Homo sapiens: one gene and its partner. The protein of the gene in region 1 purifies or fractionates together with the protein of each later gene. This does not show direct contact. Each region holds a gene or a part of one and is shown in the gene's direction. Other genes may lie near its edges. The genes, in order: METTL23 and UGGT2.

The links.
Region 2: the proteins of METTL23 (region 1) and UGGT2 purify together in Homo sapiens (affinity purification with mass spectrometry, with the first as the bait; one study listed by BioGRID). This does not show direct contact.

What each region holds. Positions count from the first base shown.
Region 1 is NC_000017.11:76,725,511-76,729,947, forward strand, and holds the start of METTL23 (histone-arginine methyltransferase METTL23), read left to right. Parts: upstream 1-1,328; 5' UTR 1,329-1,668; exon of another isoform or gene 1,669-2,020; intron 2,021-4,179; 5' UTR 4,180-4,195; coding exon of another isoform or gene 4,196-4,200; coding exon 4,201-4,284; intron 4,285-4,437. Other genes in the region: bifunctional arginine demethylase and lysyl-hydroxylase JMJD6, read right to left, coding at 1-345, 837-965. UniProt on the Homo sapiens protein: Histone methyltransferase that dimethylates histone H3 at 'Arg-17', forming asymmetric dimethylarginine (H3R17me2a), leading to activate transcription via chromatin remodeling.
Region 2 is NC_000013.11:95,948,638-95,952,446, reverse strand, and holds part of UGGT2 (UDP-glucose:glycoprotein glucosyltransferase 2 precursor), read left to right. Parts: intron 1-2,992; coding exon 2,993-3,112; intron 3,113-3,809. UniProt on the Homo sapiens protein: Recognizes glycoproteins with minor folding defects. Reglucosylates single N-glycans near the misfolded part of the protein, thus providing quality control for protein folding in the endoplasmic reticulum.

The sequences.
Region 1 (4,437 bases):
ATCAGTGAAAAACTTTGGCACCTTGTAGTCTTCCAAAAGTTTCCTTCTTTTAGGGTGTTCACCATAGCTGCTGTCAAAGATGTAAAGGGGACTATCATCTCGAGTGCTCTCCATGTACTCGATGTAGTATTTCATCTTCATCTTCACTGAGTAGCCATCGTTATCCTCACCACACTTGAACTTCTGGTTCCGATATTTCCTTTTTAGGCGCTCCAGAGTCCATTTCTCCTGCGCAGACCAGCCCTCTTGCGCATTCAACAAAACCACGGGCTTGTAAGGTCTTTCATACCGCTCCACAAATTCTTCCACAGACAGCTGTAAAGCATCTGCCCTTTCCACGTTATCCTGAGGGAATTAAAAAAGACCTGTCCAGTTAAAAAAAAAAAAAAAGTCCAGTGGCAGATAAGGGTGTCCCCAAGGCCAACTGGTAATGACAAACCGAAGGAAGTTGACTCTCGTCTGGCTCCTCCGGGGTGGGGGCAGGGCGCGTGCGTGAGGCCACGTCGTTCCTAGAGCCACCCCCCATGAGCCTTGACAGCCAGGTCCCCTAGGGGACCCGCCGCCCAAAGGAGTCAGGGACGACGGGCCTTCTAGTTGAGAGCGCCACAGGCGTGGGACTCCCGTCGTCCGCCAGAGCAGACGGGCGGCCACAGCACGGGAGGAAGCAGACCCGCCCCGGAATCCGCGCCTCGGGGACCCCAAACTCCGCGGGGTGCGGGTGAGCCTCTACGAGGTCCCGGGCGCTCGGGGCGAGGGCAGCCTCGGGCCCAGAGAAAGGTGCGTAGCGGCTGGAGGTGCCGATGCCCGGCCTGGCCACCCCCGCCCGACCCGCTCACCGCCACGGCCGCCGGGCTCAGCGAGAAGCTCTCGTAGTAGTTGTGCCGGGTCCAATCCAGCGAGTCCTTGAGCTCCGGCCGCGCACTCCGCTTGGCCTCGCGGATGCGCTTCTTGCTCTTGTGGTTCATTCTGCGGGGTCGCCAGCTGGTTCCGCTACGACCTCGGCGCAGCCCGCTTCCTGACACTAACGCACCCCTCCCCGGCCTGGGCGGCGGCGACGGCAGTACCCAAACGCCCTTCGCTCAGTCCCGGCGCCTTTAAAGTCGCCTTCCAGAAAATTCACTCCCCAGCCACCTCCCGAGCCTCGGGTTGGGCAAGCGGCCGCCGTCTTCCCCGCCCCGACGCCTCTCGCGGTTTTCCATTGGCTTTGGCTCCCCTGGGGTACTCCTTCACATACGGCGGGCCTCCGCCATGTTGGGAAGGTCACGTCGGCTGCGTCACCGCCCCGCCCCGCCCCGCCCCTCCCCTCCCGCGCTGCCGCTGTGCCCATCACTTCCGGTCGCGCCAGCCGCCCGTTGCCAGTTCTGCGCGTGTGAGTCTCTTTCGCCTTGCTCCGGGCTTTCTTCGCTCGCAGCGCGGCAGGGTTATCACCAGATCTGGGCTTTCCCCTTCTTGCCGTCAGGTGCTACGGCCACGTGGCCCGCGGCTTCCCGCTCGCGCAGTCTGGCAGCCCGGAGCCTTCCGCGGTCCCCCGCCCGCCCGGGGCCCAACGACGCCCTACTGGGCGAGCACGATTTCCGAGGACAGGGGGTCCGGGCCCAGCGCTTTCGATTCTCGGAGGAGCCGGGTCCGGGGGCCGACGGGGCTGTCCTGGAGGTCCACGTCCCGCAGGTGCGTGCAGCAGCACCCGCCAGGAGGCGCCTGAGGTCAGGAGCGGATGTCGGCTGACTTGGCTGGGTTCCTGAGGGACCGGGGGTGCGGACGCTCAGCTGCGCAGCTTCCTGCTTTAGGTTGACCCCCGGAGCAAAAACGTCGGATATGAAGCCCTTCGGTGCATTAAATGTCTCTCAGTAAGAATTTTGGAGACCCTGCCAAGAAGTGACCCTGGTCACTATGTTGGTCAGGCTGGTCTCGAACTGTAAGCTTAAGTGATCCTCCTGCCTCGGCCTCCCAAAGTGCTAGGATTACAGGCATGAGCCACTGCGCCGGGCCGGCTTTCTCCACATCGAATCTTTCCTGCCAGGAAAGTGACATTCTTGACTGACCTCTAATGCTTCTTTTGATCTTGTCCAAGGGTTTCTTGATTCATCCTTATCTCTCACTTTTGTGTGAGTTTTGGGATCAGGGTTTCCAGTTTTATTTGGTGCCCAAAGTGTTTCTTGGGTTGGACCTCGCTTCTTCCTCTAAGCTCACAGCTACAACAAAACTCTCAATAATAATTCTTTTTCTTTTCTTTTTTTTGAGACACTGTCTCGCTCTGGCGCCCAGGCTGGAGCGCAGTGGCGCGATCACAGCTCACTGCAACCTCCAACTCCCGGATTCAAGTGATCCTCCCGCCTGCCTAAGTGCTGGGATTGCAGGAGTGAGCCACCATGCCCTGCCTGTCTTCGGTTTTTCAAAGCACTTTCACTTTGCAGTATTTCATTTGGTTTTAACACCAGCCTGTGAGGCATGTCCCATGCTAAAGAAACAGCTTTAGAGAAGTTAAATGGGAGGCGGAGGCGGGAGGATCGCTTGGGACCAGGAGTTCCAGACCAGCCTGGGCAATATAGTGATACTACGTCTCTACAAAAAGTAGAAAAATTAGGCATCGTGGCTTGTGCCTGTAGCCCCAGCTACTCCGGAGGGTGAGGTGGGAGGATTGCTTGAGCCCGAGAGGTCGAGGCTGCTGTGAGCTATGATCAGGCCACTGCACTCAGGCATGAGCAACAGAGCAAGACATTGTCAAGAAGAAAAAAAAAAAAAAAGACTGGAGTGGAGGCTATTTCTGATTGTTTCCAAACAGCTTCACTTTTTTTTGCTAACTGCAACCTCAACCTCTGGGCTCAAGTGATCCTCCCACCTCAGCCTTTCAAGTAACTGAGACTACAGGCATTGGCCACCACACCCAATCTGGCTTCACGGATTTTTTTTTTTTTTTTTGGAGATGGAGTCTCGCTCTGTCACCCAGACGAGTGCAGTGGCACAATCTCAGCTCACTGCAACCTCCGCCTCGTGGGTTCAAGTGATTCTCCTGCCTCAGCCTCCCAAGTAGCTGGGATTATAGGCGCCCACCACCATGCCTGGCTAATTTTTGTATTTTTAGTAGAGACGGGGTTTTGCCATGTTGGCCAAGCTGATCTTGAACTCCTGACCTCAGGTGATGCACCTGCCTCGGCCTACCAAAGTGCTGGGATTACAGGTGTAAGCCACCGCTCCCGGCTGGCTTCACGTTTAAATACACTTGCATTTCTTCCTAAATGTAGGGGGTGATGATATTGCCTGTGAGAATAGAAGCCTCTTTCCTTTTTTTTTTTTTTTTTTGGAGTTGGAGTCTTGCTCTGTCGCCCAGGCTGGAGTGCAGTCGCGAGATCTCTGCTCACTGCAAGCTCTGCCTCCCGGGTTCACGCCATTTTCCTGTCTCAGCCTCCGGAGTAGCTGGGACTACAGGTGCCCACCACCATGTCCGGCTAATTTTTTTGTATTTTTAGTGGAGTAGAGACGGGGTTTCACCGCGTTAGCCAGGATGGTCTCGATCTCCTGACCTGATGATCCACCCACCTCGGCCTCCCAAAGTGCTGGGATTACAGGCGTGACCCACCACGCCCGGCCATTTTTTTTTGAAACGTAGTCTCACTATGTTGCCCAGGCTGGAGTGCAGTGGCGCAGTCTCGGCTCACTGCAACCTCCGCCTCCCGTGTTCAAGCGATTTTCCCGCCTCAGCTGGGATTACAGGCACGTGCCACCATGCCCGGCTAATTTTTTGTATTTTTAGTAGAGACAGGGGTTTCACCATGTTAGCCAGGCTGGTCTCAAACTCCTGACCTCAGGTGATCCGCCCGCCTCATCCTCCCAAAGTGCTGGGATGACAGGCCTGAGTCACCGTGCCCGGCCCCTGACTAGAAATATCTTATTTGCTTGCTCGTTGCCTCTCTACAGTAGGATATGTGCTCAGGGAGAGCTATATCCCCAGTCTGAGAATGATCCCTGATACTGTGACACTAGAAGCACTTGTTGAATAAACAGTGCTATCAAGAGTTTCTATCACATTGCATTGCAGTTTTATATCCCCAAAGGTCGTGGATTGGTGAACAGGGCTGCCATTTTTGTAATGGATGCCAATGCCTGACAGAAATTGCTGTATGAATGATTCCAACTTCCAGCAGCTAAATTATTTATGGCACACAAAAACATTCTTTTCAGGTCCTGCATCTCCAGTATGGAATGTATGTTTGGCCCTGTGCTGTGGTCCTGGCCCAGTACCTTTGGTTTCACAGAAGATCTCTGCCAGGCAAGGCCATCTTAGAGGTACAAATGCCCCTGAAGTTTCCAGAGTTCTAGGTTATGTTCAGATGTGTTAAGTTGACATGTGTATATTGCTTGTTTTTAGCTTTTGTTAAATATTTTTAAATCGGGTAATTTAGCTAGTTTGTAAGGTCTGTGAGCTAAGAATGTTGTTTT
Region 2 (3,809 bases), on another chromosome or scaffold:
TGAGTAGGTTCTATGCAAATACTATGCCATTTTATGTTAGAGACTTGCATATTCTTAGATTTTGGTATCCTCGGGGAGTCCTGGAACCTATCCCCCTACAGATACTAGGGGGTGGGTATATCTTTTGCCAAAATCTTATCAGTATCAGAATGACCACAGATAATGCTTTCATCTTGGACCCTAGCAAAGCCTGGGGCCGTCGTATCTTTTTTTGTTAATTTCTTTTTTTCTTCTTTTTTTTTTCCTGTGGTTTTTCAGAGATAGCCCTCATCAAGTGCTAGAGCACTACTTCTTAAACTATCCATAGTAAGAGAATAACATTTTTTCCTTAACCTGTTGCCAATCAATATGTTGTCCTACTCCTATGACTAATATGTATCTTTTTTTTTTTGAGACAGTCTCGCTCTATTGCCCAGGCTGGAGTGCAGTGGTGCAATCTCAGCTTACCACAACCTCTGCCTCCTGGGTTCAAGCGATTCTCCTGCCTCAGCCTCCTGAGTAGTTGGCACTACAGGCGTGTATCACCATGCCTGGCTAATTTTTGTATTTTTAGTAGAGATGGGGTTTCACTATGTTGGCCAAGCTGGTCTCGAACTCCTGACCTCATGATCCACCCACCTCAGGCTCCCAAAGTGCTGTAATATGTATTTTGTACTACATGTGGCACACCACAGGAGTTTGATGAACCCCAAGCTGGCTTATACCATGTTCAGTGAAATGAGACTGATACATGCTCAAATGTCATGGCCATGTCAAATTACTGCAAGTTGTTGAACACTTAATTTCTGTACTTATAGGTTATTAACAGTCTTCAGACCACAAGTTTAGTTGCACTGTAGTTGAGAGTCTCATTTTGTCTGTCTAGGCACACTTGCTTTTAGTCAGGAAAAGTGGCACTGCTTGAAGGCTCTGTATGATTCTGAGCTCCATTGGGAATGGGAGTTCTGATTGCCCTTTCCAAAGAGCTGCCAAATTCTCACCCTCAGCTGCCTTTGGGTCAAGATAAGGCCTGTTTCCCCTTTGGGGCTAGACTCCTCTGCACCTATATCTTCCTTTCTCTTTTCTTCCTCAGACTGAGTAAGCTCATTGACTTACCTTCAAATTCATTAATTCTTTCTTCTAACTGCTCAAATATGCTGTTGAGCTCCTCTCATTAATTTTTTATTTCAATTATTATACTTTTGAATTCCAAAATTTTTATTTGGTTCTTTTTGTAATTTTTATCTGTTTATTGATTTGTCTTCATGCCTTCCTTTATTTAGACATCGTTTCTTTTAGCTATTGGAACATATACCCTAAATTCCTCTGTTTTATTCATCCATCTGTGTGTGTCTCTTAATTCTGTCACCTTTTCTCTGAAGCCACTGCCTCTGACTTAGTTCAGTCCACAATAAACTCATACCTGGATTATCTGAATTACTGTAGAAACCTAATTTCTTCAAGTATTATTTGCTCCAGACTTTCTCTCCTTTCCTCTTGGATTTTTAGTTACCTATATGCTAGATCTTTTTCATATATTCCTAATCTCTCTCACACTTTGTTTGGTTTGTTTATTCTTTTCTTTGTAGTTTAGTTACTATAACAGTTGATCTGTTGTCACGTTTACTAATCCCTGTCTCTTCTGCGTACAGTCTGCAATTAAACCCACCCAATAAGTTCTTAGAGTTCTTAATTATAAATATTATATTTTAAAAACCTTAAATATCTCTTTGATTCTTTTTAAACAGATTTTAGTTCTGTCAAAATTTTTCTTTTTAGAAATTTTTGTACTTTTTAAAAAATATATTGATAGTTATTTTAAAGTCCTTGTCTAAGTAATCTTTGGGGTTTTTTATTGTCTTTTTTTTTTTTCCTGTTTCATTTCAATATTTGGTCCTTTTCTCTTTGCATGACTTTTTTTTTTTTTTGTGAGAGCCAGAAATTGATGAAAAGCTGTAGAAGCAAAGAGCTAAGGTTTGTTCTGGTATCCTCAGTGCCAGATGCTCACTTGCTTCTGTTGAAGCTTGTTTTTAGGCTTTGTGAAGGCTCTACTATTTTTGTGTCTTACTTCTAGGATCTGGCCTTACTGGGTCTCAAATGAAAGTCTACAGTGTATATAGTACTATATAGTACTTGGACTTTGGTCTCTGTCTTCTCAGTACTATTTTATAGCTGTGGTTTCAACCTCTCCGTTTCTCTTTCCTTCTGGCTTTTGTAGAGGTGTTACCATGTATATGTGCAGGATAGGAGTCAGCAAATGACTTGAGAGGAATTTGTATGGAGATTTTTCTGGTTTCCTGCAGTTTCCTTCTCTCCTACCCTCTCACCCTGCATCCTGCCCTCAAATCTCAGCACTTTGGCAGCCCGTACTTTGACTTCTGCTTTCCAACTCAGTATTTCTCCAGGACGCAATCTGGGGACCCAGGGATGAAGTTTAGGTGAATGTGGAGCTTGCTGCTTATGCCTCCTGCTTTCAAGGACCATAATGCCTCACTTCTTGATTGGTGGTTGCTTCCCCGACCACATGCCTCTAAACAGCAGTTTATATGTTTTCTCCAGCTTGTATAGTGGATTAGAACTTGATTTCTAAGATGTTGATTTTATAATTTAATTTTTATAAGCCATTTTATTTTCCTTATATCCAAGCCTTTAAATTGAGAGGGGAGGTGGAGAGGGCTTCATTTACTGCTGATAATTAAAATAAATATTCATCTCTCTTAAGTGGTTTATGGAGAGTAATTTTCATACAATTTTACGTTGGGATATGAAAAACAAACACAAGTGAAAGGAATTGTTTTTGAGAGAAGGCTTAATGTAAAAGGCTACACAAGTATAAAATTGTTGCACATAATGTATTCCTTAATTTAGAGAATATTAAACTAGCTCCTCTATTTAATCAGAAATATAGAAAATTCTATGTATATTTTTATTTATCACGATATAGTAAAAATCTGGCTTTGAAAATGATTTCAGTGTTAATATAGCTTTCACAAGTGTCTGCGTTCTTTTCTAGTGGATTAATGACTTAGAAAATGATGATTTGTATATTACATGGCCTACAAGTTGCCAGAAACTTCTGAAGCCAGTATTTCCTGGAAGTGTACCTTCCATAAGGCGCAATTTTCATAATTTGGTGAGTTTTATATTTTGATTATACATATATATCTTATAAAGATATCAGCATTCTTTCTGGATTATCCTTCTGTCAATGAATAGGCATCTGAGTTGTAAGGAAGTTAAGTATTTGCCTGAAGCAGCAAGCTTAGGTGGCATGGCTGACTGGGTATCAACAACTAGCCATGTCACTGTATTAGTCCGTTCTCATGCTGCTAATAAAGACATACCTGAGACTGGGTAATTTATAAAGGAAAGAGGTATAATTGACTCCCCAGCATGGCTGGGGAGGCCTCAGGAAACTTACAGTCATGGCAGAAGGGGAAGCAAACGTGCTTCTTCACATAGTGGCAGGAAGGAGAAGTATGAGCAAAAGGGGAAAGCCCCTTATAAAACCATCAGATGTCCTGAGAAGTCACTATCACAAGAATAGCATAGAGGCAACTGCCTCCATGATTTAATTACCTCCTACTGGGTCCCTCCTACGGCACATGGGGATTATGAGAACTACAATTGAAGATGAGATTTGAGTGGGCACACAGCCAAACCATATTAGTCACATGTTCTGCCTCTTACTCTTTAGCCCTTATGTCATTTTATAATAACCATATTAATGTTACTTTTACATTTTTTCAAAAGAATTTATGACAGAACTTTTTCTTCTTTATTAAAAAGAACTAATGATTAAAGTGTAGTAATTTTAGGGAAAGATACAT